Homo sapiens: one gene and its partner. The protein of the gene in region 1 interacts with the protein of each later gene in a pairwise test. Each region holds a gene or a part of one and is shown on either strand. Other genes may lie near its edges.

Evidence for each region.
Region 2: the proteins of IHH (region 1) and RHOD interact in a two-hybrid assay, tested with the Homo sapiens proteins (one large-scale study listed by BioGRID and IntAct).

Annotation. Positions count from the first base shown.
Region 1 is NC_000002.12:219,053,769-219,058,074, forward strand, and holds the end of IHH (indian hedgehog protein preproprotein), read right to left. Parts: intron 3,927-4,306; coding exon 3,665-3,926; intron 2,098-3,664; coding exon 1,439-2,097; 3' UTR 656-1,438; downstream 1-655. UniProt on the Homo sapiens protein: Plays a role in embryonic morphogenesis; it is involved in the regulation of endochondral skeleton formation, and the development of retinal pigment epithelium (RPE), photoreceptors and periocular tissues.
Region 2 is NC_000011.10:67,059,847-67,063,654, forward strand, and holds part of RHOD (rho-related GTP-binding protein RhoD), read left to right. Parts: intron 1-3,808. UniProt on the Homo sapiens protein: Involved in endosome dynamics. May coordinate membrane transport with the function of the cytoskeleton. Involved in the internalization and trafficking of activated tyrosine kinase receptors such as PDGFRB.

The DNA of each region.
Region 1 (4,306 bases):
CCTGTAGTCCCACCTACTCAGGAGGCTGAGGCAGGAGAATGGTGTGAACCCAGGAGGCAGAGATTGCAGTGAGCCAAGATTGCGCTACTGCACTCCAGCCTGGCCAATAGAGTAAGACTCTGTCTCAAAAAAAAAAAAAAAAAAAAAAGTGGAATCCTGGAAGTGGGGCCAGGAATCATCTTTAAACAAGCTTCCCAGGTGATCCTGACATTTGAGAACTGCTAGATTAGGGATCTCTGACCTGTCCGAGAAGTCAGAATAGCCCACAAGACAACGTGAATTTTACAGAATCTTTTCACACTGTGGTCCATTACCAACAGGGAAGAGTCAGAAGCCCAGGCCCTGAGAGCACAAGGGCATGGTTATAGATGAGTAAGGTGACCATGGACTAGTCAACTCTGTTCTCTCTCGGGTCCATCCTTGTTTGGGGTAAATGGTGAGGTCAGTGTGGGAAGGTCCTGCCCTGTGCAGAGCACAGCTCTCTGTAGGGGCTTTGCAGAGCTACTGGGTGGGAATGGACCTGCAGTGAGGGTGGGAGGCCTGGAGTTTTTGTCCTTGGAGGAAGGTGAGCCAGGCCTCTCCGAGGAGGGGAGAAAACCCTGGACACAACCTTCCAGGGCTCCAAACTATCTGTGAGCATCCTGGACTCTGTGGCTCTAACAACTTAAATAATTTTTATTACAAAAGGAAGAAAAGACCAAAACATCCCCAAAATTCTCCCATGGGCTTCCCCCTCCACTCCAATAAATAAGGTATGGGAGACTGACCGGCGGAGGGGGTGGGGATCATGGTTCAGCAGAAGGGGGAGCTTAGCCGGGGGGGTGGCAAGCACATCCAACCCACCTCCCCCAGTCCCCGGCACTACGGTCACATTGGCCAGAACACAGAACTCTGCCCACAGACAGCAACAGTCTCTGGATGTGTCTTGAGGAGTGTGGCCGGGGAGGAATGTCATACCTCAGAATGGCCGGGATGGCTGCCCCACCCCTGTGGCCTTCCCAGTTCTGGACAGCATCGGGTCCAGCCAGATCCATGCTGGCTCCCAGGGAATTTAGCAGCATCAACTGAGGCGCAAGCCCACCCAAAGGGGCCTAAGATGGATGGAATGGGCCCTCCCCAATGGGGGAGGCAGAGTATGAAAACTCGTAGTGAGAGCAGGCTGAGTTGGGAGTCGCCGTGCCAGCCTCAAGGTCTCTAGGAGAGAGGGGTCAACAACCATCCCCTCGCCAGCTCAGCTTGCAGCTCTATGACTACACCACGACGGGGGTGGGGGACGCTGGTGTTGCCCAGTCAAGTCTCAATGGTGTATCTTCATGGCAGAGGAGATGGCAGGAGCCAGTGTCCCCCAGCTCAGGTCCCTTCCAGGGCCAGCTCCCTCCTGGCTGAGAGGCTTCTGGACCCAGTACAGCAGTTCCAGGAGGGCAGCGGTGGAGTCCTTTCAGCTCCCTGCCCCGGACATGCCCAGTGGGTGGAAGCTGCCCTCTTCTAGCAGGAGACGCCCCAGGCGGTAGAGCAGCTGGGGGTACCAATGCACACCCTCCCCCGGAGTCCAGCTGCCCCATGCCAAGCTGTGAAAGAGTCTCAGGGGCCAGAAGGCCAACTGAGCCAGGTGGTGGTCAGCCACGGCCGCGAAGCAGGATGCCACCACATCCTCCACCACCAGTGTCCCATGCTTTGTGAGCGGGGCGTAGGCCCCGAGGGCCACGTGTGTAGAGACAGCTGCCACGCGGGCAGGCTGCAGGCCTGGCACCCCAGCCACCAGCACGTACTGGCCAGGCTGCACGTGGCTGGCAAATGTGGCCCGGAAGCGGGCTGCCGGCTCCGTGTGATTGTCAGCCGTAAAGAGCAGGTGAGCGGGTGTGAGTGCCAGGCGGCGTGGGGGGTCCTGAGTCTCGATGACCTGGAAGGCTCTCAGCCTGTGAGGCTCGCGGTCCAGGAAAATGAGCACATCGCTGAAGGTGGGGCTCCCATCCTCCCCCATGGCCAGCACACGGTCTCCCGGCCTCACGGCTGACAAGGCCACACGCGCCCCACTCTCCAGGCGTACCTGGGCTCCGGCAGGGAAGCAGCCGCCCGTCTTGGCTGCGGCCGAGTGCTCTGTGGGAGAAAGGGACATGAAGGTGTTACTGCTGTGCAGCTCAGCCTCCTGGTCACAACGACCCTCCCTTGGCCACCCCAGCCAGCCAGAGCTCCTCTTGCTCCCAGAGAGCCCCCGTCACCATATCCCAGCTCCTGCCCCCCACTTCCTATGCAGGCTTGAACCCATACTTCACTGCCCCCATCCCCTTACTCCAATGTGATCTTCTGTGACCCCCCTCCCCAGCCTAATACCTTGCCAAGGAGCATAGTGGGGCTCCAAGACCCAGTGGATGAGAAGGAAAGGGCTACCTCATGGAAGGGGGAGGTTGCTTAGCTCCTCCGAGGCCTAGATGTTCTGTTATTTCTCACCCCTTGCTCAGACACTTCCCAAAAATTGCCCTCTCAGGCTGACTCCCCAGGTTCTGTAACAGAGCTGGACCTTTGAATGTAGGGATGTGAGAGGAGCCCACCCAGTGGGGCAAAGGCAGACTCCTGGGCAGCCTCGGAGTGAATGTTTGGGTCAGGGGCAGGCCAGGGGCGAGGACACAGTCACCATCTTCAGTTCACATGCTGAGTCCCTGTGCAGGGACAGAACACTGCGGCATCAGCAGGTGAGCTGGAGAACAGTGTTTGGGGGTCAGGAGTAATGAATGGAAGTGGTTGTCGTGGGTCAATGTTTGCAGTGAAGGGTGGATGGGCCTTGCAGTAGACACAGTTGGCAGGGGAAGTATTGAGTGGAAGGTTCAGGGTGTGGTTGTGGGTCAGGGTAGGGTCAGGAATATCAAAATGTGGGCCTGGGCTCAGTGTGCGGGTCTATGAGAGTGCAACTATTACACGCTGCCAGTGTGAAAGGCTGAGCCGGCAGCCAGGTGGGGCTTGGCTGGGAGCCACACAGGAACCATTTGGAGCCTCCATGGCTGGGTTCAGTGTAGGTGACAGGGTGCTGACAAGACTTGAGGGAGGGGTGAGGCCCCAGTGCCTGCCAATTCTGATCAACAATGCGGCCAATCTGGGAAAATCCACTTTATTGAGTCCACTTTGTTTAGTCTGGCTCTCCTGGCTGGCTTTGCCCCAAAATGTCCAGCTTCAGGGCACAGGGGGAGAGGTTGGGGACGCCTGCGCCCCAGGGAGGGCTGACCTGCAGCTGGGTGGTGGGTTCTGAGCCTCTGGGCTCCTGGTCAGGCATGCAGGTGTCTGGGCATACCCCGGCTCCTGGCCCCACCACCCGCCTTGTTCTGTGCCAGGTGGGGTGGGGAGGCCTTGTCTGGCAGCCTGGCTTCCTCCATCTGTCCAGCTTGCTCTGTCTTGCACCTCCTGTGGCAGGCTCTGGACTGTGGGCCACCAGGTCAGCACCCAGCAGCCCTGGGACAGGGCCCTATCGCCCTAGGCTCCTACCATGACACTGCCAGGCATGGGATGAGCAGGCAGTCACGGTCAGGAGCAGCCTTGGAGAGCGCCGCTGATGTCCTCTTCCCCCGGATCCCTGCCTCCATCCCCGGGCGGGCTCTTCACCTTCTCGGCACTACTCCTCCTGCCCATGCCCTGCGGCCCCGGCCCCGGGCCCAGCCCCCCGGCGGCGGCTCACCGGACTTGACGGAGCAATGCACGTGGGCCTTTGACTCGTAATACACCCAGTCAAAGCCGGCCTCCACTGCCAAGCGCGCCAGCAGTCCATACTTATTGCGGTCGCGGTCTGATGTGGTGATGTCCACCGCGCGGCCCTCATAATGCAGGGACTCCTCTGAGTGGTGGCCGTCCTCGTCCCAGCCCTCGGTCACCCGCAGCTTCACACCGGGCCACTGGTTCATCACCGAGATAGCCAGCGAGTTCAGGCGGTCCTTGCAGCGCTGGGAGAGGAATGTGCGCGAAATCAACCAGAGCGAAATCAGCCGGAGGAGCCGGCCGAGGTGCAGGTGTAGGCGCAGCCTCGCCCAGAACTCTCCCGCCACACCCAAGGGAGCTGGAAGCCCGGGAGGGTGCTGTCCCTCTCCCTTAGGAACAGAGGGCCCTGAAGTGCTCCCTCCCTAGCATACAGCCGCCCCCGGGGATCTGGACCGCACGGCGGTATCACAAATCTGGAGGAGGCATGGAGGCAAGCGCCCTGGCGGCGCCTTCACTGGTAGGTGGAGGTCCCCTCTCTCCTGTGCTGTCTTCAGCTCCGGGTATCCATCCCTCCACAGACAGGACTACACCTTTCAGCGCCCGGTCCCTCTGTGCCTCCAAGGCA
Region 2 (3,808 bases), on another chromosome or scaffold:
AGCAGCCAGGAGGCTGGAGTCCCATCTCCCAGACTTCCTGCACACAGCAAAGGGCTGAGAGCAGCCTGAGGATTTGGAGGGACCTCAGTGACCCTCATCTGGCTGTGACCCAACCCTGGATTCAGGGCAGCAGGGGAGGGCAAGGTGGAGAGAGCTCCTAGGACAGGGGGAAGCCCCAGGCTGGGGTGCCAGCCTCTGCCCAGTCCTGGCTGGCATTTGTGGCTGCAACCATTCCCACAGGTTCAAAGCCTAGCAGCCCCCACACCAGCATGGGGATAGGAGGTGGCAGGGAGCACCCGGCCCTGCTGGCTAGAGCCCCCTGGGTCCTTCCTGGTTCGCACTTGGACTCCCATGGGTGTCCTAACCAGGGATGCCCCGACACTCCCTCTTGAGCCAGGTCCCCCATCTTGGTAATGATTCATTTTCTGTCTGTGAGCCCCTGGAGGGCAGACCTGAGCCTGAGTCATCTCCGTCCTGGTCCAGCACAGGCCCAGTCCTTCTTTTCTGGCTGAGGACGGCTTAACAGATAAAATTAGGTGCCATTGATCCCATGGACAGAGGGTGACCCTGCCTGGGGGTCAAAGAACAACACAACAAAAGGTACAGACAGAGTCTCTAGGATGACGTCCCGAGTGGGGGAAAGGGCTGTGACAGTTACAAGCCAGAGGGGAAACCCAGCCCCTTTCTGTCTCCGGGAACTGGAGTTGGTAACCTCAGGAAAGGCAGGTGGCTGAGGACAAGGCCTGGTCTCTGCAGCCACAAAGACCTGGCTCTGTCACTAGCCAGCTGTTCAGTGTGTCACCTTGAACAAGTCATTTCCTCTCTCTGGGCATCATCAGAAAGTGAAGGTTGTACTGACGTTCCGAGCTTGCAAGGATCGGAGATGGTGCCAGTACACAGCCACACACAGAAGATCCTTAGAGAATGGTGGGTGGTGGTGTCATTACCATGGGCATTTGCAAAGCACTGAAACATGTCTCCCAAGAGATTTCCAGCAGGCTGCCTTGCAGCTCAGATCAAGAAGGTGACTGAGTGGGTGGTCAAGCTGGGAGCTCAGATGCAAGGGCACCAGTGCCCTTCACAATGACAGGCCCCTACTCTAGGACAAAGGTCAGAAGCTGCGGAGGGGCTGGGTGTATTAGTCCATTTTCACATTGCTATAAAGAACTACCCGAGACTGGGTAATTTATAAAGAAAAGAGGTTTAATTGACTCACAGTTCTGCATGGCTGGGGAGGCCTCAGGAAACTTACAATCATTGTGGAAGGTGAAGTGGAAGCAAGGCACTTCTTATGTGGCAGCAGGAGAGAGAGAGAAGGGGGAAGCACCACACTTTTAAACCATCAGATCTCGTAAGAACTTCCTCACTATTGGCCAGGCGTGGTGGCTCACACCTGTAATCCCTGCTCTTTGGGAGGCCAAGGTGTGCAGATCACTTGAGGTCAGGAGGAGTCCAGCCTGGCCAACACTGTAAAACCCCATCTCTATTAAAAGTACAAAAATTAGGCTGGGTACGGTGGCTCACACCTGTAATCCCAGCACTTCGGGAGGCCGAGGCGGGTGGATCACCTGAGGTCGGAAGTTCGAGACCAGCCTGACCAACATGGAGAAACCCCATCTCTACTAAAAATACAAAATTAGCCGGGCGTGGTGGCACATGCCTGTAATCCCAGTTACTCAGGAGGCTGAGGCAGGAGAATCGCTTGAACCTGGGAGGCAGATGTTGTGGGGAGCTGAGATCGTGCCATTGCACTCCAACCTGGGCAACAAGAGCGAAACTCTGTCTCAAAAAAAAAAAAAAAAAATCAAACCCGGGAGGCGGACCTTGCAGTGAGCCGAGATCAGGCCACTGCACTCCAGCCTGTCCAGGAGGCGACAGAGCGAGACCCTCTCTAAAAAAAAAAAAAAAAATATATATATATATATATATGTGTGTGTGTGTGTGTATATATATATATGTGTGTGTATATATATATGTGTGTGTGTGTGTGTGTGTGTGTATATATATATTAGCCAGGCGTGGTGACACACCTGTAATCCCAGCTACTCAGGAGGCTGAGGCAGGAGAATCACTTGAACCCAGGAGGCAGAGGCTGCAGTGAGCAAGATTGCACTACTGCGCTCCAGCCTGACTCCGTCGAAAAAAAAAAATCTCCCTCACTATCACAAGAACAGCATGGGGGAAACCGCCTTCATGATTCAATCACCTCCCACCAGGTCCTTCCCTCGACACGTGGGGATTACAATTCGAGATGAGATTTGCTTGGGGACACAGCCAATCCATATCACTGGCGAAGGTGTCACCACCTGGAAGGATGGACGGGGGCTCGTGTGGACACTGCCCCTGGCCACCAGCTTCCCTGGTGGTGAGCATTTATGCTGGGGCCTCACCTGCCAGTCCATCCTCCCTCCCACATCATGGCATGACACTCTCCCCCTTTAACCAGTGAGGAGACTGTCCTAAGGACACATAGCAGGTGAGTGCTGGAGCCCGGTCTTAAGCCAGGCATATCTAAACCTAAAGCTAGTGCTCCTAGCTACCAGGTCACACTGCCCTGGCAAAGGCAAAGGGCCTGAGGGAGGGCACCCTGAGCAGGCAAGGGGGGATGGAGAGGTAGGTGAGGCCCTTGTCTGTTCCTGTTGGTTCCTTTTGGTAGAGGGAGTGATAGCATGTCTAGAGTCTGGGGTGGGGCCAGCCCTTACCTCAAGGCTATCCAGACTTCTCCATCTTCCTCAGCTGCCCACTCTGGGACCTGCCTTTCTCCCCACCCCACTCCCTGCAGCTTCCCTGGAGGACGGTGCTGACCCACTGCTCAGGTGCTGCCCCTCCCAGCTGGCCAGGGCCTGACTCAGAGGGCCAGCGGGCAGGCAGGCGTGAAATTCTCCTGAGTCACGGGCAGGTGTGGGCCGCACCCGGCATGGGAAGGGAAGAGGATAGGGGCCCCCCAGACTGTGGCCCCATCAACCAGCCCTGAGCAGGCAGTCAAGGCTTAGGGACCCAAGAGCGGGCGGCCCAGCATCCCCTCAGAGCAGAGGGCACAGGTTGTGGCAGAGTTTTGCAAACCCATCTTACAAAAGCTCCCTCTTCATTCCTGCATTTTCATCTGTGTACAAAACCTGGCCTGCTGCCCGTTCATCTCACCTTCATGGAAAGGCAGCAGTGAGCTCAGGCTGGGCAGGGCTGGAGTAAGGGGCCTCTGTCCTGGGTGACCTCCTCCCAAGCCCAGGCAGGACAAAGAAGAAAGGCCCAAACATGGGGCACTGGGCTGGGCGTGGTGGCTCACCTGTAATCCCAGCACTTTGGGAGGCCAAGGCAGGTGGATCGTGTGAGTCCAGGAGTTCAAGACCAGCCTGGGCAACATAGCAAGACCCCATCTCTGCAAAAAATACAAAAAATTACTTTGGGAGGCCAAGGTGGGTGGATTGCTTGAGTTCAGGAGTTCGAGACCAGCCTGGGCAACATGGCAAAACCCTGTCTCTACGAAAAAAGAAGAAAAATTAGCCAGGCATGGTGGCCCACACCTGTAATCCCAGCTACTCAGGAGGCTGAGGTAGGAGAATCACCTGAGCCTGGGAGACAGAGGTTGCAGTGAGTCAAGATCGCACCACTGCACTCAGGCCTGGGTGACAGAGTGAGACCCTATCTTTTTTTTTTTTTTTTTTAAAAAAAGGCCAGGCGTGGTGGCTCATGCCTGTAATCCCAGCACTTTGGGAGGCCGAGGCAGGTGGATCACTTGAGGTCGGGAGTTCAAGACCAGCCTGGCTAATATGGTGAAACCCCATCTCTACTAAAAGTACAAAAAATTAGC